Homo sapiens: one gene and its partners. The protein of the gene in region 1 interacts with the protein of each later gene in a biochemical or structural test. Each region holds a gene or a part of one and is shown on either strand. Other genes may lie near its edges.

Region 1 (7,083 bases):
TAGAGAAGGGGTTTTGCCACGTTGGCCAGGCTGGTCTCGAACTGACTTCAGGTGATCTACCCACCTCGACCTCCCAAAGTGCTGGGATTACAGGCGTAAGCCACCACGCCAGTTGTTTGACTTAGGTATTTCTTGAGTGACTTTGGTGGTTCAAAGAAATTGTCCATTTCATTTCCACTGTTGAATATGTTGGTGCTAAAGTGTCTTAATATCTCCTTATATTCCTCATAATATCTGTAGAATATGTAGTGAGGTCATTGATCTCTTCCTAATAGTGATATTTTGCATTCTCCCTCTTTTTTCTCTTTTCTTCAGTCTGACTAGAGGTTTATAAATTTGATTTACCTTCTCAAAGAATCAGCTTCAGGTTGTATTGATTTTCTGCACTTGTTCATTATTATTCATTCTCTTTTTTCTACTTTGGATTTAATTTACTCTTGTTTTTCTAGTTTCTTGAGACGGAAGCAGAGGCTGTTGACCTGAGACCTTTCTTCCTTTTTAGTGAACATTTCACACTGTAATTTGCCTCCCAAGGAGTGCTTTAGGAACACCATGCAAACTGTATTTTACTGCCTTTTTGTTTTCATTCAATTCAAAATTCTTTCTAATTTCTCCTTTGGCCTCTTCTATTTCCTATATCTTATTTAGAAGAATGTTATTTAGTATCCAAATATTTGGGAGGATTTTCTAGACACCTTTCTTTTCTTGATTTCTAATTAATTCCATTGTTGTCCGAGAACATACTTTGTATGGCTTGAATCTGTAGAAGGTTGTTATTTTAGTGGCCACGTTAGAATTTGTAGTAAATCTCTTCCATGATCACAGTTTACCTTCCGGCAACATGAAGCCACTGCTGTCTGCTACAAGAGTCTCATGGCCGTGTTCTCCATTTCTCTCCTCCTGGCCTTTGTGAGATGGTGGTCATGTTAGAGACCTCACAGATGGGATCCATGCCTGCCTGGTCTGTCTCCTGTGTACAGCATCACCTGTCCTAGAACAGCCGGCACCCTGAGGGTGGAGACCTGGGCTGAGGCACAGAGGTAGCTTGTGTGGGAGGGAAACTTCTGGAAGGGGGATGTGATGGTTAATACTGAGTGTCAACTTGATTGGATTGAAGGATGCTAAGTATTGATCCTGGGTGTTTCTGAGAGGATGCTGCCAAAGGAGATGAACATTTGAGTCAGTGGGCTGGGGAAGGCAGACCCACCCTCAGTCTGGTGGGCACCATCTCATCAGCTGTCAGTGAATAAAAAGCAGGCAGAAAAATGTGAAAAAGCGAGATGGGCCTAGCCTCCCAGCCTACATCTTTCTCCTGTGCTGGATCCTTCCTGCCCTCGAACATCAGACTCCGAGTTCTTCAGTTTTGAGACTCAGATTGGGTCTCCTTGCTCCTCAGCTTGCACACAGCCTATTGTGATCCTGTAAGTTAATACTTAATAAACTCCCCTTTATATATGCCTATCCTATTAGTTCTGTCCCTGATTAATACAGGGGGGTAGAAAAGGCCCTAGTTGGGACCCGAGGAACTAGGGCTGGAAGCCAGCTCAGCCATGAACTGGCCATGTGCCTTGCGGGAACTTCTGCCCTTCTCTGAGCCTCAGCCTCCTTGCCCGTAACAAGTGACGTGACCCCTGGAAGCACCCCTGACCAACATTTACACTGGTGCCTGTGAGGGCTTTGGTTTTTGTGTGTTATCATCTGTGGGCAATTTTGAGTTCACCAAAGACTTTTCAGGTCTTCCTTTGCTTTCTAAAACGAATTCAAATTTAATTATGTCCATTTATTAAAAATCTTACTTTAGGGCCTGGCGCGGTGGCTCACACCTGTAATCCCAACACTTAGGGAGGCCAAGGTGGGTGGATCACCTGAGGTCGGGAGTTCGAGACCAGCCTGACCAACATGGGGAAACCCCATCTCTACTAAAAATACAAAAAGTAGCCGGACATGGTAGTGCCTGCCTGTAATTCCAGCTACTCGGGAGGCTGAGGCAGGAGAATCGCTTGAACCCAGGAGGCGGAGGTTGTGGTGAGCCAAGATTGTGCCATTACACTCCAGCCCGGGCAACAAGAGCGAAACTCCGTCTCAAAAAAAAAAGTGTACTTTAAAAGCTGCATTCTGCCTTCATTTTAAAAGTGTGACTTATAAACCTTATTATTCTATCTTTTAATAACCACCTATAAGGAGCCTGTGAATAATTCTTGGTCCATTCCTTAACTTAGCCAACTAAACACCTTCAAACATTGTTACTGCATTTATACATTTAATAGAACCACATTTATCCTTTAGTACCTTGTCTAACTTTAAAAAATCCTTCTGAATATGAACTGCTAGAAATGTAATCATTTAAATTCAGCATGTGATAAACTCAGAGTTCCAATAAAGTGATTCAATAGTTTATATGAATTCGGTAAGTTTTCCGCATAAATGCACTCTGCCAAATCAATTACTCAATTGGCCATTTTCTGTTGAAGTTATCCTGCACCCACTCCAATAGGCCAGATTCTCTTGATTATTGCAAGTACTTTAAATAGCATATTTTTTTAGATTTCTGAACACTAAAATATTAATATAATGTCTTTGGGCTTTTAAAGCCTTCTAGACTTAATTTTAAGTCATCTAGGTTTGAAAGATGCTTCTATTAGGAAGGACAAATAGCATGCAGTAAAGGAACCTGCCTAAGGACTCGGAATTTTGGCTGCTGGGGTTTCACTGGGCAGCTCTGGGGACCTGGCTCCTCTGCAGGTGACTTCAGGACTTTGAGGAAGATGCCCCCAAGCCATCTTTCTAGGTTCCATATCTGCATCTCCATGGAGCCTGTGTCTTCCCCAGGTTCATCCCTGGACCTCATCTGCATCTGGCATAGCCTTAATTAAGTCTTGAGAGGTCTGCCCTAAACACCACGGAACCCGAGGGGGGTCTTAACTAGTCATAGTCTCAGGACCACACATCTCCATGGGCATTGAAGGAAAATCCGATGGGATTTTGTTTCTCGCGTGGCTTTGCTGGGCTGGGGTCACAGTTTAAAATCCTTCTACTGATCTTGCCAAGGAAGAAGGCACCTCGGCATCCCGATGGCAGCAGGTGGCAGGGTGCGGTGGTGGTAGTGGGAGGTGCAGTGCTGGTTCCGTCTCTGGGGGCTTTAGGTATACGGCCTCTGGGGCCCCACCTGCTACTGTCTCTGTCTCTAACCTGGCTCAGTCCAAGGCGAGAGTGCACCTTCAGGCCAGCTCTTCTCCAAAAGGCGAACACAACCACTGAAGTAAGTCCACAGCCATCCTACAGGTGGGATGTCTGGCCTCAGGGCTCAGGGGGTTCCCTGGGCCCTAGGAGTGAAATTCACCTACTCTCATCCTCCCTACAGGCTAAGCCCCTGCATTCACACTCAAGGTCTCCCCTTCAGATGTGTACCTGGGTCATAGTCCCCCAGGCTCCCCACTCTTCTCTCCTTTCCCTCCTGTTCATGTGCCCCTGTGCTCTACATACTGCCCCAGGAAACAGTGGACACACACGCATTTTCCTCTCCTTTTCACCCTGGCAGCCTGCCTGGACCTCATAGTGGCAGTTTCCAAGCCTCCTGAGGAGAGTCCCAAGTCTGCTCATGATGTGGTGAGGGTTACTGTGTAAGGCCCACACCAGTGGCCCATGACCAGCCCTGGCCATGAGGACTCTAGGTATTCGGATAAGGGAGAGAGACCTCTTTGAAGCAGAACATCTTTAGCAAACCCTTCCTTGTTCCCCGTTCTCAGCTCATGGTGACATCTGCTCACCGCTGAACAAAGGTGGGAGGATGGGCCTGGGCTCTTTGCCCAAGGCCACAAGCAAGTCAGCCTGTTCCCTGGAAGGAGACCGTCCCCCTGCAGGGATGACAGTCGCCATGGGATCCCCAAGGGGCGGGGGGTAGGGAGCAGCCCTGGAGATGATCTCGCACCTCCTGCTGGCGTCACCAAGCCCGCGGAGAGGAAGCGGCTGTCACTCGGAAGATGAGAAATTGGAGTCTGAGGGAGGCTGGCTTCTCTAGCCCTATAAGAGGGCAGGCACCTTTTGAAGCAAAGACCAGAAGAGATGGAGCTGGACAGAGCTGTGGGGGTCCTGGGCGCTGCCACCCTGCTGCTCTCTTTCCTGGGCATGGCCTGGGCTCTCCAGGCGGCAGACACCTGTCCAGGTAAGGGCACTCCAGGGCCTCCTCCTGGAAACTTCTCGTCCCTGAAAGCTGGCAGCTTCGTGATTGGTGGCTTCCTGGCTTCCAGGCCTTGCACCAGGCCGTGTGGAGCATCGTCTAACGAGACAGCAGCTCTGCATGCCTCATCTTATGTGAACAAACGCAGAGGCCCCGAATGGATGTGGCATCTCAGAGACGGAGCTTCCTCTGCTTGCCCTCCCATAATGGAAACCGAGGCAGGTTTCCAGTCTCCCTGGGCCACATGTCCCCCTCTAAGCGTAAAAAGCGTAGTCATGGTGTTGTGTGGGGAGGTGAGGCTTGTGGTGCCAGCTGGGTAGACACCAGTCAGATATTCTGCCATGGTCGCCATCACAGAGAGACAGGGTGTGAGGTGGGGATAAGCACCCGGAAAGACAGGGTGTCAGGCGGGGATGAGCACTGCAGGACCTTTCCATCCAGGACCTGCTGGGCTCTGGAGATGGCAGTTCCCATGGTGTCCCTGATGCGGCACAATAAGGGTGGCATTGTCCCCGTGAGTTCTGGACCTCCTTCGGGGCTCCCGAGGGGACACTCGGGTGCCAAACCATGGGCTCCGGCGCATGCGAGGGCAGGTTGAAAATGCAGGTTCTGGAGTCAGGTCCTGACTCCGTCTACCCGGGGCTGGGATGCAGGGTCAGGAATTTGTGATGCTCCTGATGCTTGCAGAGATTCGTGTCAGGATTTCTGGAATGCATGTGAGACACAGAGCTCTGCGGTGTGCTGTGACTAGCATCGCATTCAAGGAGCAATCCGTGGCGTGAAGTGTGACACAGGCCAGGAACAGCGGGGATTCGCTTGGAAACTCCTAGTGGCTCGTTGTGGAGTGGTGGGGTTAGGGTGGCATTATTTTCTTCCTTAAATACTTCTAGAGTTTCTAAATGATCAAATAATAGCACGTGTTATTTTTGTAACACACTCACTTGAATTTGAGTTATCTAATTAAAAACAACAAGCTGCATTCCAGCTCTAGTTTCGCACCAACTTGTTCAGTGTCCTTGAAGGACGCCTCCCTCTGTGGAGGAACAAGGTGGACCCACAGGAGCCCATCCACTCTCAGATCTGCTCCAAGATCAGGCGTGGGAGTTGCAATGGTAGCCTCTCTCCCTGTGTCCTTCTCACCCGATATTGATTACAATGATATGATAGATGAGAACAGACGAGATTAGGATGCTGTCTTAAATGGTAGGAGCTGAAATGAACCTGCACCCCTCGGTAGGTAAGGGAACAGAGGCTCAGAGGGGTTAAGGGACTTGTTTCAGGACACACAGTACTGAGGAAGTAAGGTTTGCCTTCAGGCAGGGTAGCCTCCAAGGCCAGGGTTCTGCCCCAAATCACCTTTCTGCCTGACCAGTGCCCAAGAGGTGAGGACAGACCAAGTGCCCACCAGGGCAGGAAAACCTCCCTTCCAGGTGACCCTCCAGCTGAGGGAGGTGGCTGTGGCTATAGCCATCTGCCCAGTCCTGATGTCACCAAGATGGCAGATGCCTTTCAGTTGAGTGGTATATCTATGGCTCAGTGGAGTCTTCAGGCCCAGGTGACACTGAGTGGCCACCTGTGTTTTTCTGCAGAGGTGAAGATGGTGGGCCTGGAGGGCTCTGACAAGCTCACCATTCTCCGAGGCTGTCCGGGGCTGCCTGGGGCCCCTGGGCCCAAGGGAGAGGCAGGCACCAATGGAAAGAGAGGTAGGTGCAGGCATGGCTGGGGGCACTGGCTCTTGCTCTTTTTGAAACCAGATGCTGAGTTGGGCAACACCCCCACCATGGTTCCTAGATCGAGAGCTGGGTCAGGCCCCTGCAAGAGCCAGGAAAAGAACTGACTCCCAGGGCCCAACAGGGTTCTGACATGGAGGGAGCGTCTTTCTTAGCTATTTCATGAGCTCACATTTGGACATGCTTCTGTAGCTCTGTCTCCTAGTCCTTGATCCAATACCAGCTTTGCTCGGCCGCTGGCACGACTTCAAGCTCTGTGTCCCTCCACCTTCCCACCTCAACACGGAGGCCATGACACTCTTCTCCACCTGTCTCAGATGAGGAAACTGAGGCTCAGAGAGTCCAGGGATTTCGCTCTGTTCTCACACTTGGAAGGAAAAGAGCCGAGATTCTACCCATGGTCTCTGGATTTCCAGCTCCCGGCCCCTGAGTGAACAGGAGAGCCCCGTGAGGCCTGGGTCCTGGATCTAGAACCTTCTGGTGCAGGATGGGCAAGCCTGGGCGGGGCCACAGTCACGTCGTAGCACGAGCAGGGTCATGGTCATGATTGGAAATGACAGCCGCCAGCTCCAGGGTGGGCCCTTTGATCCTGGGCTGGGCAGTTTTCCTCAAGTCAGTGTCTTTGGAAATTGCAGGAGAACGTGGCCCCCCTGGACCTCCTGGGAAGGCAGGACCACCTGGGCCCAACGGTAAGGAGGGGACAAGAGTGAGAAGCGGCTTCAAGGCCCTTCCAGACCTGGCTGCAGAGGAACGTGAGGCGGGTCTTCTGGGGCTGCCACGCTGTCCTCGCCAGAGCCAACGCCTGCCCAGGCAGGGCTCTTGGGGCTTAGTCCAGGGCAGGGGTCTCAGTGTGGGGGAAGGGGTCTCAATGTGTGTGTGGGTTCTCAGTCTGGGGGAGTGGGGTTATCAGTGTGGGAGCTGGTCTCAATGTGTGTAGGGGGTCTCAGTTTGGGGGAGTGGGGTCATCAGTGTGGGGGCAGGGTTCTCAATGTCGGAGGAGGGGTTCTTGGTGGTGTAGGGAGAGGTTCTTGGGGTGTGTGTTGGGGGAGGGGTTCCCGGTGGGCAGGCTGTGGGGAGGTGTTATCAGCAGGGAGGGAGGAGCTGTCAATATGGGGGAGAGATTCTGGGATGGGGGAGAGGTTCTGATTATTCGGGGAGGGACTTTTAGTGTGGGGA
Region 2 (4,332 bases), on another chromosome or scaffold:
CTCACTGCAAGCTCCGCCTCCCGGGTTCACTCCATTCTCCTGCCTCAGCCTCCTGAGTAGCTGGGACTACAGGTGCTCGCCACCTTACCCAGCTAATTTTTTGCATTTTTAGTAGAGACGGGGTTTCACCGTGTTAGCCAGGATGGTCTCGATCTCCTGACCTTGTGATCCACCCGCCTCAGCCTCCCAAAGTGCTGGGATTACAGGTGTGATTGAACACTACTTTATTGAAACTTTATAGAGACTATATCAAATGCCCATGGATATGGTGATTTTTTTCAGTGATTTTTATTTGATTTTAATTAACACAGCTGGAAGAAAAGATGTACCTAGCAATTTCATTTGAAAATAGAATCACTGCCTCATTAAAAATTAATTTTAAAAAATCTTCAAAAGTTCAAATTATTTAGTGAAAAAGTATCAAAGCATGACAGAGCCAGTTTTGTGTTTTAGTATTGTAGTTACTTTTATATGATTATCTGAATGCCAATATTTTATTTGACTATCCCTAACACTAAAGGATAAGGTTCATATTTGTTTAATGTTTTCAGGATAGAGCCTACCCCTGAGCCACTTGTAGGAATCTGACATAGTTTACCACACTTTTACATGGATGTTTGGTTTCTGCAAGTTCTTTCTCTTTACCAGTTATTCTGGAACCATTCTGGGAGTTTGCTTTTCAAAGCTGTCTTATGGCATATCTTCTTTAGGTTGTTATACCTGCCCTAATTTAGGTGTTTTTAAAAAAATACCTACATACACATACACACATATATATACACACACATTTATATACATATATGTATGTATACATACATACATATCCATATGTATATATGTGTGTATATATACGTATACATACATATATATATATTTATGTATATAGATGCAGAGCTCACCTGTTCTTTCCCAGGGACACGTAAAAGGTTTTCGTTTCAGCATCTCCAGCTTCCCAAATGGCTAAGTCGCCTTGAGATGGACAATGGTGGAAACTTACTGAGCTTTCCACCTCAAATTTGAAAGTCCCCCTCCCAAGTGCTCTTTAGCAGAAACATGTTCTCCAACCAGGCCCCTTGAAAGAATGTACTTCTCTTAAAGATTTTCAATTACTGCTTAAATAGTAATTATAAGCATGTGGACAAGGTAGAATTTTTAAACACATTTTTGGTCTATTCAGCTCTTAAGTGCTACATACTTGCTGCTTACAGACTTGCAGAATATTAGGAGCAGAATGGAAGGGCCTTTTTTAGATAACGCTAAAGCCTAGAGGAAATTATGGTGCTCATCCAAAGTTGCATGGCTCATTAGTAGTAACACCATCTGGATTCTAGCCCTCCTAGAGAAATCTAGGGGTTCTATTAATAAGAGGCACTGTAGTGTGCTGATTAAGGGCGTGGCCTCTGTGACCAGACTGCAAAAATTCAAACTCTAGTTTTACTGCTTATCAGCTATGTAAACATAGATAAGTTACTTTTACCTAAGTTTTCTCATCTGTAAAATAGGAATGTAAAAGACTATCTCTTATGGTTGGCATAAGGATTAAAATGACAAACAAAATGATTAGAACAGTATCTGATACATAGTGAATGCCCAATAAGCTTAGTCATCATTATTATACATTGTTGCCTTTCAAAGGTAGTTTTCTAAAAACTCTGCAAAGTTTACAAATATCTGAGAACATTTGGTGTATTAAAATGTATTCTGCAGGCCAGGTGTGGTGGCTCATGCCTGTAATCCCAGCATTTTGGGAGGCTGAGGCAGGCGGATCTTGAGGTCAGGAGTTCAAGACCAACCTGGCCAACATGGTGAAACCCCGTGTCTAAAAAAAAAATACAATAGTTAGCTGGGCGCAGTGGTGTGCACCTGTAGTCCCAGCTACTCCGGAAGCTGAGGCAGGAGAATCGCTTGAACCTGGGAAGCGAAGGTTGCCGTGAGTCGAGATCGCACTACTGCAATCCAGCCTGGGTGACAGAGTGAGACTCTGTCTCAAAAAAAAAAAAAAATGTATTCTGCAATAACATCACTATCCTAGAATTTTGCTGAAAAATGCATGTTGGTAAAGGCTAAATGGAGCGAACTAGGTCTACTGAATTTCACAGGTTTATTATTTTAGGAACTTGGTGGTGGCAAAAAGAGAGAACCAGGTTGGGTTCTGAATTCTTGGAAATTATAGAATTATTGTCTGAAGTTAACTGATAGTGATTCAACTTTTTTAAAAAAAAGCAGTAACAAAGAAAATATGCAAATTGGAAGGGGAGGTAGTTATGGCTTTTATTATTTTGTGGGTTTGGACTAGTTGGCTCTTCTATTTGCGTGCTTTCTCTTCATTTAGATGCTTCATTGGATAAGACAATTGGCTTTCCTTTTTCTCATTTTCTTTGCTCTGCAGAGATTACAGTGGAAGCTTCTTAAGTCGTAATGTAGGGTTTCACATAGCTTTCAATTGTAATAATTAAAATTCTTATGTTAAATAACTAATGCCAGAATAATTCTGAATTAATTTATATTTTCTTTAATATTCTTCTTATTTTCTTGCTACTCTAGGTTGTGAAACAGCTATTTTATTCCCAATGCGTTCCAAGAAGATTTTTGGAAGCGTGCATCCAGTGAGACCAATGAGGCTTGAGTCTTTTAGTGCCTGCATTTGGGTCAAAGCCACAGATGTATTAAACAAAACCATCCTGTTTTCCTATGGCACAAAGAGGAATCCATATGAAATCCAGCTGTATCTCAGCTACCAATCCATAGTGTTTGTGGTGGGTGGAGAGGAGAACAAACTGGTTGCTGAAGCCATGGTTTCCCTGGGAAGGTGGACCCACCTGTGCGGCACCTGGAATTCAGAGGAAGGGCTCACATCCTTGTGGGTAAATGGTGAACTGGCGGCTACCACTGTTGAGATGGCCACAGGTCACATTGTTCCTGAGGGAGGAATCCTGCAGATTGGCCAAGAAAAGAATGGCTGCTGTGTGGGTGGTGGCTTTGATGAAACATTAGCCTTCTCTGGGAGACTCACAGGCTTCAATATCTGGGATAGTGTTCTTAGCAATGAAGAGATAAGAGAGACCGGAGGAGCAGAGTCTTGTCACATCCGGGGGAATATTGTTGGGTGGGGAGTCACAGAGATCCAGCCACATGGAGGAGCTCAGTATGTTTCATAAATGTTGTGAAACTCCACTTGAAGCCAAAGAAAGAAACTCACACTTAAAACACATGCCAGTTGGGAAGGTCTGAAAACTCAGTGCATAATAGGAACACTTGAGACTAATGAAAGAGAGAGTTGAGACCAATCTTTATTTGTACTGGCCAAATACTGAATAAACAGTTGAAGGAAAGACATTGGAAAAAGCTTTTGAGGATAATGTTACTAGACTTTATGCCATGGTGCTTTCAGTTTAATGCTGTGTCTCTGTCAGATAAACTCTCAAATAATTAAAAAGGACTGTATTGTTGAACAGAGGGACAATTGTTTTACTTTTCTTTGGTTAATTTTGTTTTGGCCAGAGATGAATTTTACATTGGAAGAATAACAAAATAAGATTTGTTGTCCATTGTTCATTGTTATTGGTATGTACCTTATTACAAAAAAAAGATGAAAACATATTTATACTACAAGGTGACTTAACAACTATAAATGTAGTTTATGTGTTATAATCGAATGTCACGTTTTTGAGAAGATAGTCATATAAGTTATATTGCAAAAGGGATTTGTATTAATTTAAGACTATTTTTGTAAAGCTCTACTGTAAATAAAATATTTTATAAAACTAGCTCACGTCATTTAATTATAAATTTAAGAGATGTTTTGGAGCAAACTCGTACTTTTCTCTTTTCATTTAAAGTAGGCAATTAGTTTTCAGATACTATTATGTAAACAGCATGGTTAATATTGTTAGGAATGAGCAACTATAGACTTGTTTTAAGTTTGGCTTCCTATAAATCATAAGCAAGAAATATTATCTCTGCCAAGTCAATTCATCTCTGTGGGTTTTAGTTTTCTCAGCTGAGAAATCAAGGAATTGATGAAATAAGAATCTCTAGGACTCTTCCCATTTGACAATTCTAGGAGCTTATACAACTTTCTGTACTGTGTAACATAAAAACAAACACCAAACATGAATTATCACAGTTCCTCAGATACACATGATGCTGCAAGACATGGCTTAGGAATGTTATTTGGGAGACCTAAGAATCTGGAAAAGAACTCCTGCCCTGAAAGCACACCCCATTCTCTTCCTTACTCAGAAGGGAGAGGTCAAGCCCCTTCACACTGTGGATGGGGAGGTAACTTTTCCCCACCACACTAGTATTCTCCTGTAGATTCTATGTGAGGGC
Region 3 (7,048 bases), on another chromosome or scaffold:
AGCCAGAGAGGTCGAGGCTGCAATGAGCCATGATCGTGCCACTGCACTCCAGTCTGGGCAGCAGAGCAAGACCTTGTCTCAAAAAAAATGCTATGCTGTATGCTTTATTATATTAATATCCAATAGAATAAAGACACATGCCTTCTATATAGAGAGAACTAAATTAATAATGGTGAGATAACAGTTAAATTCTCATTTAGCAGGAGAAATAAAAACATAGACTATAGGCTAGGCACAGTGGCTCATACCTGTAATCCCAGCACATTAGGAGGCTGAGGTGGGCAGATCACTTGAGGTCAGTAGTTTGAGACCACCCTGGCCAACATAATGAAACCCCGCCTCTACTAAAAATACAAAAGTTAGCCGAGTTTGGTGGCGCATGCCTGAAATCCCAGCTACTCAGGAGGCTGAGGCAGGAAAATCGCTTGAACCTGGGAGGCAAGGGCTGCAGTGAGCCAAGATCACGCCACTGCACTCCAGCCTGGGGAACAGAGTGAGGATCTGTTAAAAAAAAAAAAAAAAAGTGGACTCTAATAATACATGGACACATTTAGTGAAATAAACTTAACTGAGTAGAGCAGAACTTATAATATTTTAAAACTGTAAGAACATGTCTGTACATTAGCAAATAGTAGATGAGAATAGTATTTTCAATATTTACTTCTGGTAATTTGGAATTAAAAAAAAAACTTTTGGGAAAATTTACAATAAAGTATGATTTTAACAAACCAGGCTAGGCGTGGTGGCTCACGCTTATAATCCCAGCACTTTGAAAAGCAGAGGCATGCAGATTGCTTGAGGCCAGGAGTTCAAGACTAGCCTGCCCAACATGGCCAAACCCCATCTCTACTAAAAATACAAAAATAAACCAGACATGGTAGTGCATGCCTGTGATCCCAGCTACTCGGGAAGTTGAGGTAGGAGGATTGCTTGACCTGGGAAGTGGAGGTTGCAGTGAGCCATGATCGTGCCACTACACTCCAGCCTGGGTGACAGAGCAAGACTCTGTCCCAAGGTTTTGTTTTGGTTAACTTGCTGTCCCTTTTTCCAGGAATTCCTTGTGGGCTACCCCCCACCATCGCCAATGGAGATTTCATTAGCACCAACAGAGAGAATTTTCACTATGGATCAGTGGTGACCTACCGCTGCAATCCTGGAAGCGGAGGGAGAAAGGTGTTTGAGCTTGTGGGTGAGCCCTCCATATACTGCACCAGCAATGACGATCAAGTGGGCATCTGGAGCGGCCCGGCCCCTCAGTGCATTATACCTAACAAATGCACGCCTCCAAATGTGGAAAATGGAATATTGGTATCTGACAACAGAAGCTTATTTTCCTTAAATGAAGTTGTGGAGTTTAGGTGTCAGCCTGGCTTTGTCATGAAAGGACCCCGCCGTGTGAAGTGCCAGGCCCTGAACAAATGGGAGCCGGAGCTACCAAGCTGCTCCAGGGGTGAGTCTGACTGAGGCCTAGTAGGGCCCTGCAAGTGACATGCGTTGCTGTTGGATCAGGAGATTAGTATTTGTTCACGGGGAGGGATGTGTGCTGAGCAGGGTCGAGGAGCAAATTTTCTAAGTAGTGAACATGAAATTCAGGTGTGTAGACATGCACATGTGCTGAAATTGAGAAGCAAAGCTCAACCTGGGCAAGGGATATGATGTTTCTTTGGGGTTCTTATAAACAGATCTATCAATTACCTTTGAGTATAATAATGTTTGATACAAAATGAGTGATTCCTCTGCCCAGGCACTATAATACAGGCTACATGTGAATTTTAATCCTGAAAACAAAGTTATTAGGTAGTTCCCAGTTGTTCTATGTTTGTCTGTTTTGTTTTGCTTGAGATACTGTCTTGATCTGTCACTCAGGTTGGACTGCAGTGGTGCCATCATGGCATACTTCACCCTCCACCTCCCTGACTCAAGCAAGTCTCCTGCCTGAGCCTCCCAAGTAGCTGGGAATGTAGGTGCATGCCACCATGCCTGGCTAAGTTTTTTATATTTTTTTTGTAGGGACAGAGTCTCACCATGCTGCCCAGGCTGGTCTCAAACTCCTCAGCTCAAGCACCCACCCACCTTGGGCTCCCAAAGTGCTGGGATTATAGGCATGAGCCACTGTGCCCGGCCTCTATGTTTTACAGAGAATATGTGCCTTAGACACATCAGATAACATTCTGAGACAGTAACTTGCAGACAAAACTGGATTGCAAGTCCACCTCACTCCAGAGCCTTGGCTTTGCTCATCAGCATTCAGTCATGAAATCAAAACTTACTCTAGATACTTTCAAGGAGGGAGGGATTTCATGCAGGTTGTATTAGTCTGTTCTCACATTCCTATAAAAAACTACTTGAGCCTGGGTAATTTATAAAGAAAAGATGTTTAATTGACTCAGAGTTCTGTAGGCTGTACAGGAGGCATGGCTGGGAAAGTTACAATCATGGTGGAAGGCAAAGAGGAAGCACGCATATCTTCATATGCTTGGCAGGAGAGAGAGAGAGAGCAAGGCAGAGGTGTTACAGACTTTGAAACAAGCAGATCTTGACAGAACTCTATCACAAGACAGCACTAGGGTGATGGTGCTCAACCATTAGAAACCACCTCCATGATCCAGTCACCTCCCACCAGGCTCCTTCTCCAACACTGGGAATTACCATTTGACATGAGATTTGGGAGGGGACATAGAGCCAAACCATATCGCAGCTAATAGGTCACAAAAATGTTAGAAGGGCAGGAAAAGCAATAGGACAAAGGCAAAGTTACGAGAGATCAGGGAGCTGCTGTGGCTCCCAGTCTACAGCACAGGAGCCTGGAGTGATGGTGAAATGGCCAGCCCCTCCCACTGAGCAGGCAGCTCCCTGTAAGCTGCTAATACTGCAGGAGCCACCATTGCTGCCAGAATGCAGCTGATATTGCTGGAGCCAAAGTCATTGGCATCGTTACAATTGAAGCTGTAGCTACTCACTGAAGCCATCTATACTGCCACTGCCTGAGCCACTTCTAGAAGTAGAACAGATTCTGCCATCATCCTGCTTTTTAATTTGGTATATATGCCTCCAATTGGCAGAACCTAACCAGAGCCTAGCTATCAAGGAAGATGAACGATTTATTTTTAAGGCCTCCATTGTTAGCTGTCAAAAGACAGTGCAGAAATGTGAGGCTGGGGGCCAACAGAAATTTAACCAGCACAGCACCTCAATATTACATCACCAGGCATTGATTAGTCCAGGGAAACACTGGGTGATGAGCCCTGAAAATGGACATTACAGCATCAGAGTATTTACAAACTCCTTAAAGAAGTCATTTTTCTATTCCAATCCCCCATTTGATGCTTGAGAAAGCTGAAGTCCAGAAAAGGGAACTGATCTGCTCAAAGACAAACTGAAATTACTTTTTCCATTTTATAACAGTTTTATGTAATTTATTTGAGATCCAAATGTGTTTTGATTTCCCAAGATCAGATCAACTACATTAAGAGAGAGCCTGAGATGCCGTTACAATATGTTGTGTGAAATTACACTCTCATTATGGTGACAGTAGGTCTTTCAGATTTTGTTCGACAGTTTCCCACCTTCTCACTGAAGTGAAATGAATGACTAGGCAGCACCTTGCTACATAGCATGAAGAGAGGAGACCCATAGTTCTTTACCACCCTATGTCAGGTGGCCGCTGAGAGAAGACTTGAAAGGAGATGAGCATAGATGTATGGACGCTCTTTGTTGCACCAGTGTGATAGGTGATGGAGGGACCTATTAGATGGGACATGGGCAGGGGCACTCCTTTATTGCTTAAAATGCAAGACTAAATTGGTGATGCCTTTCTAGAAAGGAAGTATGAAGATACAAAAATCCATCATTCCTCCCAATTTTGTACTGGGTGAACAGTAATTGGAAGCATTCTAGAAGGAACTGTCCATTGTGAAATCTTAGTTGCATACTTTAGATGAAAAACAATGAATTGGAGATACCTCTGTTTTAGTCACAGTTGTGCCATGTGTCAGTTCTATGACTGATGGCAAGACATCTTCCTTGCCCCGTGTATTTAGTTTATCAATGTAATAAGGCTGTTATTCTAACTTTATTATTATATATAGATTCGTAATTATTATTCCCTTGGCCAGTTTAACAGTGAGAAAAAAGTTGTTTTCACACAATTAGCTGTACTTTGTTTCTCTCTCCCCAGTATGTCAGCCACCTCCAGATGTCCTGCATGCTGAGCGTACCCAAAGGGACAAGGACAACTTTTCACCCGGGCAGGAAGTGTTCTACAGCTGTGAGCCCGGCTACGACCTCAGAGGGGCTGCGTCTATGCGCTGCACACCCCAGGGAGACTGGAGCCCTGCAGCCCCCACATGTGAAGGTGACTAGACTCTTATCTGGCTTGATATTTTTAGCTTGCGTCTTTATTCTCCACATGCCAGTGATTTCTGTTCGTTTTTCTTTATCTCCAGTGAAATCCTGTGATGACTTCATGGGCCAACTTCTTAATGGCCGTGTGCTATTTCCAGTAAATCTCCAGCTTGGAGCAAAAGTGGATTTTGTTTGTGATGAAGGGTGAGTATGAGCTTGCCTGACCTGCTGGACATTGAAATTGGGGTTGGGAATCAGTCTAAAAAGGGGAGATTTGGTGTGGCACACACACACACACCTTCAGAGAGATGAACTTTCGAAAGTATACCTAGGAAGAAAGGAAAGAAACATATAGAACTAATAACATGAGATATGAAGAGGAAACTGGAACATATATTAACTGGCAAGTTCAAAGGCAAGTATAACTACTGGTTATGAATATATAAGTAACACATTAAGCAAAAAATATCAGCCAGAAACGGTGGCTCACCCCTGTAATCCTAGCACCTTTGGGAGGTTGAGGCGGGCAGATCACCTGAGGTCAGGAGTTGGAGACCAGCCTGGACAACATGATGAAACCCTGTCTCTACTAAAAATACAAAAGTTAGCTGGGTGTGGTGGCATGTGCCTGTAATCCCAGCTATTCCGGAGGCTGAGGCACCAGAATCACTTGAACCTGGGAGGTGGAGTTTGCAGTGAGCCGAGATGGCACCATTGCACTCCAGCGTGGACAATAAGAGTGAAACTCCATCTCAGGAAAAAAAATCATATTTTACAAGCAAAAAGGAATATGAGTAATTTAGAGAGTCCCAGGAAAAAACTGGAAGTAACAAAAGCTTATTATAAAAAGCTAGGATCATTTGTGAATCATTTCAGTAAATTCTTTAAATCGTCAACAGTGAAATTTGTAATAGGACTGAAAATGTAAAAATCAGCATTTTTTAAAAAAATCCAGCCATATATCATCTGGTTAATCATGGGCTCTGGGCTCTGAGCTGGGGTCCTGATGGCTGCTGTTAATATTTCCAGCAAGCTCATTACCTTGTTTATGTCCACCTAGTGCTCTTCGCAGGGTGCACATCTCTACACGGGAGCTGACCGGCATGGGCAACAAAGCACCTGATCCCAAAATGTAACACAGAATCTTGGCAGCCTCCAAATGCCAGCACCCAGTAAGAGTTAGGAGGGCATCGGGGTCCAGCAGACATTGAGAATTTTCGACAATTGCATGCAAAAAATAAGTCCTCTCTTCTTTCCTTTTTCCCCTAGAATATTCATGCTTACTCTTCAGCAGCCCAAATTGCCCTTTTGAGCCTTCTTCACGCCATCACAGATGTGGAGATGAAAGGACAGTCTGTTCTCTCGCCAGCTATTTCCCACTTTTCCACTCCAAACTGGGAGCTGTTTTACTTGCTGTTCCAGGGTCAGAGTTAGGAAGGCATTACATTAGAAGACTGGGTTTCTAATAACAACAATGAGTGATTTATCAGGTTATCATGGAGTAATCAGTGAAACTCCAAGCCTGGGTCCTGGGTCAAGGGGATGGCGCCTATGTCATGACCACCTTTTTCAGTTCAAGCAGGACTATCATGTGACCAAGCTACTGCATTTTGCCATTCTATATTGTTCCCTTCTGGAGGCTGTGATTTTTCCAGAATAAGGTAGCCTGTGCAACTCTGCCACCTGCTGGCCTAAGGTCCTAATAATCCTGAAATTGGGGCTGGGCCTTAGATTGTGAACTAAGGGTTCTCTTGGCTGAAACAGCTCACACTATTCACTCCTATTTTCTTCTTTAGATTTCAATTAAAAGGCAGCTCTGCTAGTTACTGTGTCTTGGCTGGAATGGAAAGCCTTTGGAATAGCAGTGTTCCAGTGTGTGAACGTGAGTAGCAGGAGTAACATTTCAGGCCAGTCTCTCCCTTCATCTGTTCAGTATTTGACCCATGACCTCCCCTAATGTGGTTCTTCAATTTTCTAGTTTGAATTATTGATTTGAAAATTGCTTATTTTAATAATGTTTGGTTGTGAATCAAATGTATACATCACCTGTCTTTGGAACCATCTGATCTGTCTCTGTCCTTCTGTATTCTGTGTTCTAGTGCGATAAATCCTATGGTAGCATGATTCTAGGTCAGGAGAGATTAGATAATGTGAAGCCTTAACAATTTGCTTTCTTTCTCTCTTTCTTTTGTTTCTTTTTTCTCTTCCTTCCTTTCTTCAGTTCTTTCTTCCCTTCTCTTTCTCTCCCCTTTCTTCCTTCCTTCCTCCTTCTTTCTTTTCCATTTTGTTCTTCCATCAGGTGCAGTCTACAATTTTTGTATATATTTGATAATACACAAATATTAAACATGCCTTTATTTAATCAATATTTATTGATCACATACTTTGTGCCTGATGTTCATCTAGCCACAGGAGTTATATCAGTGAACAAGATGAATGAATTCCCTGTCCCCATGTTGTTTCCACTCAGTTGGGGAAAGGGACAAGAAAAAAAATAAATACGATGCTATGAAGATAGTAGAGCAAAGCATTTAGGCATGAGGGAAAAGTGAGGAGCAACATTAGACAAGGCGAGCAGTTTGAGACTCCTTAAATTCTCAAAACATGTACCTAAATAATTTATGCTGAGAGATTCATAAATAATGTCATTTTTAAAAATTTATTATACTTTTAAGTTCTAGGGTACATGTGCACAACGTGCAGG
Region 4 (2,752 bases), on another chromosome or scaffold:
CTGACCCAAAGTAAGACATGTTAGATGGGGGTTATCATACCATGGGGTTTCCCTAAGATAAAACTCCTCCATATTATACTATTCAAATACTTTTAATATCTTAGTCATTTTTATTTCCCTTGCAGGCAATCTCTTTGAACAGAGGTTTATTCAATGAAGGAAAGGTGGAGGGAAGAAGGGAAGAATTACAATGGTTAGAAAAGAGCAACTAAAGATTATTTCTATTATACTTCTGAACGGTAAACTAGCAATTTTAATAAATATTGGGGTCCACTTAAATCTATTAAAGCAGAAAGTGTAAAGCTATCTCCATTAGTGAAGAGATGAAGTGACAAAAACCAATCAGTTTTTGTAGCAACTGATTTAGAAAATCTTGTACTGAAATCAACAATTAGACTTGCACATCATAGATTTTCAAATGTTTGCTGAATTGAAAAAGAATATTCACAGGAATTATTTCCCCCGAAGGTGTCTTATATCAAATAGATGAACTTCAAGTTGTGGAATGTAAATCTTTTATTAAAACAGTTGTCTTTCCACAGTAGTAAAGCTTTGGCACATACAGTATAAAAAATAATCACCCACCATAATTATACCAAATTCCTCTTATCAACTGCATACTAAGTGTTTTCAATACAATTTTTTCCGTATAAAAATACTGGGAAAAATTGATAAATAACAGGTAAGAGAAAGATATTTCTAGGCAATTACTAGGATCATTTGGAAAAAGTGAGTACTGTGGATATTTAAAATATCACAGTAACAAGATCATGCTTGTTCCTACAGTATTGCGGGCCAGACACTTAAGTGAAAGCAGAAGTGTTTGGGTGACTTTCCTACTTAAAATTTTGGTCATATCATTTCAAAACATTTGCATCTTGGTTGGCTGCATATGCTTTCCTATTGATCCCAAACCAAATCTTAGAATCACTTCATTTAAAATACTGAGCGGTATTGAATACTTCGAAGCAGAACAGGCAATGTGCAGCCCTCATTTATGAGAAAACCCTCAGGAAACTCCCAGGGTGATGCTTGGAGAAGCTGTGAGTTGAGCTGAAGCTGGAGAACTTCCTCCAGAGCAAAGGGCTTAAGAAAGAAAGAAGAACTCTAAGCTGGGTCTGCTAACATCACTCCAGTTTAGATGGATCTTGGCAGAGAGACATGCTTGTTCCTCTGGATTGGAAAGATGATTTACTCTCGGGAATCTTCTCTGTCAGCCTGTACATCTAAAGGCATGAAGCACTCAATTGGGCAATTAACATTCTGTTAAAAAGGAAGAAGGAAAAAAAAATTAGTGGCAAATACTGTAAAGTGTACAGAAAAAAAAATGCGGGGAGGTGGGGACTCATGACAGCTGCTTATAGATAGGATAATATTTCTTCCTAGTTTCAAGAACCTAGCAGCATACTGGGCAATAGGAGATGTTCAAGAGTTACATAAATTATAACTTAAACTATATTATGGAATACAGTGTTTCACTTAAGTCATTTATGAGTTGTTTTTTTTTTTAATTAATTAAAACACTTGGTTCATTCTGAAGAAAGATACCTGTAGAAAGAGACTGTCTAGTATGAGGGAACACACTTGTGCTGCTAATGCACTTACAGTGTTTGTTCTCTGATGGTATCTCTGAGAATACTGGTTGTAGGACTGGCCAGTAGTGCCTTCGGGACTGGGTTCACCCCCAGGTCTGCGGCAGTTGTCACAGCGCCAGCCCTGAGAGAGTAGAGGCATGAAGTCAAATGGGGTTTATGATAACCTGAGGACATCGTAATTTAGTGTTTGAGTTAAAGAAAAATGTCACATCATATGCACTGGCAAAATATAAGCAGTTAATCACTAAGCAAGCTTTGATGATGATTTCATGCATTTATAACTCTTAATACATTTTGGCTTATTACCATATCTTATACCTACATCTGTCTCTCTATGTTGTTTCTTTCTCCTGAAATGTCTCTTCTCTTCCTATTCAAACCTTGCCCATCTGCTGAGGCTCATTCCAATCCCAACTTCCTCAACAAGTTCTCTGCACTAGATGATAGAAAAGGTTTTCAAAGAATCCTAGCGATTTTAAAAGGGACTTGAGATCACATGAAGAAACGTTCTCATTTTATAGGTAAGGAAACAGAGACCCAGAGGAGAGGAGTGACTTGCTTAGAGGGAGCAGGGAAGTCACACAGTGGACCACTGGTGGAGTTGGGCCTGCCGCCCAGGAGGTGGGGTGACCTGGCCATGTTCTTTCTAATGCACCACTTTGCCACTCTCTTCCTAAACTTCCCTAGGCAGTGACATGGTAGCCTGTCACCTGGCCGGAGATGGCATGGGAGATGGAAACGGGACCAAGCTGAGCCAGTGAGGCTCCTGCCTGAAGTTTTTACTGGAAATGGGAGGACACACATGTTCTCTTTCACTACTGTTCTTAAGCTGGCAGGGGGTAAAGCAAGCTCATGGAGGTCAGTCATCAATGGCACCATCAGCAGAGACCCCGCTGAAGCACGAAGCCAGTGCATGGGAAGGCACGCGGAGCAAGAGGGAGTCCGGGCGCCATTGCTGGAGCAGCCCCTGAAGCCGGTGGGTCCTGGGACTGTTCCATTGTGTGGGCCATTTTTGCTTGAGTTGGACTTTTTTCTTACAACTAAAATGCAGCCCTAAATAATACAGTCACTTTCTTTTTTATATTAGAATTTAAATATTTTAGACATATTTCTCTGTTTAAGCACATATGCCCCTTAATACCTAACACAATACCAGT

The links.
Region 2: the proteins of FCN2 (region 1) and PTX3 interact in a biophysical measurement, tested with the Homo sapiens proteins (2 studies listed by IntAct, with this or other methods).
Region 3: the proteins of FCN2 (region 1) and CR1 interact in a biophysical measurement, tested with the Homo sapiens proteins (one study listed by IntAct).
Region 4: the proteins of FCN2 (region 1) and FN1 form a complex in vitro, tested with the Homo sapiens proteins (one study listed by IntAct).

Annotation. Positions count from the first base shown.
Region 1 is NC_000009.12:134,876,760-134,883,842, forward strand, and holds the start of FCN2 (ficolin-2 isoform a precursor), read left to right. Parts: upstream 1-4,050; 5' UTR 4,051-4,062; coding exon 4,063-4,162; intron 4,163-5,766; coding exon 5,767-5,880; intron 5,881-6,542; coding exon 6,543-6,596; intron 6,597-7,083.
Region 2 is NC_000003.12:157,439,822-157,444,153, forward strand, and holds the end of PTX3 (pentraxin-related protein PTX3 precursor), read left to right. Parts: intron 1-2,544; coding exon 2,545-3,158; 3' UTR 3,159-3,812; downstream 3,813-4,332.
Region 3 is NC_000001.11:207,541,131-207,548,178, forward strand, and holds part of CR1 (complement receptor type 1 isoform S precursor), read left to right. Parts: intron 1-1,051; coding exon 1,052-1,450; intron 1,451-4,177; coding exon 4,178-4,354; intron 4,355-4,445; coding exon 4,446-4,548; intron 4,549-6,140; coding exon 6,141-6,226; intron 6,227-7,048.
Region 4 is NC_000002.12:215,360,364-215,363,115, forward strand, and holds the end of FN1 (fibronectin isoform 1 precursor), read right to left. Parts: exon of another isoform or gene 2,290-2,752; coding exon of another isoform or gene 2,283-2,289; intron 1,717-2,282; coding exon 1,606-1,716; intron 1,264-1,605; coding exon 1,192-1,263; 3' UTR 502-1,191; downstream 1-501. Other genes in the region: bifunctional purine biosynthesis protein ATIC, read left to right, coding at 2,283-2,289. UniProt on the Homo sapiens protein: Fibronectins bind cell surfaces and various compounds including collagen, fibrin, heparin, DNA, and actin. Fibronectins are involved in cell adhesion, cell motility, opsonization, wound healing, and maintenance of cell shape.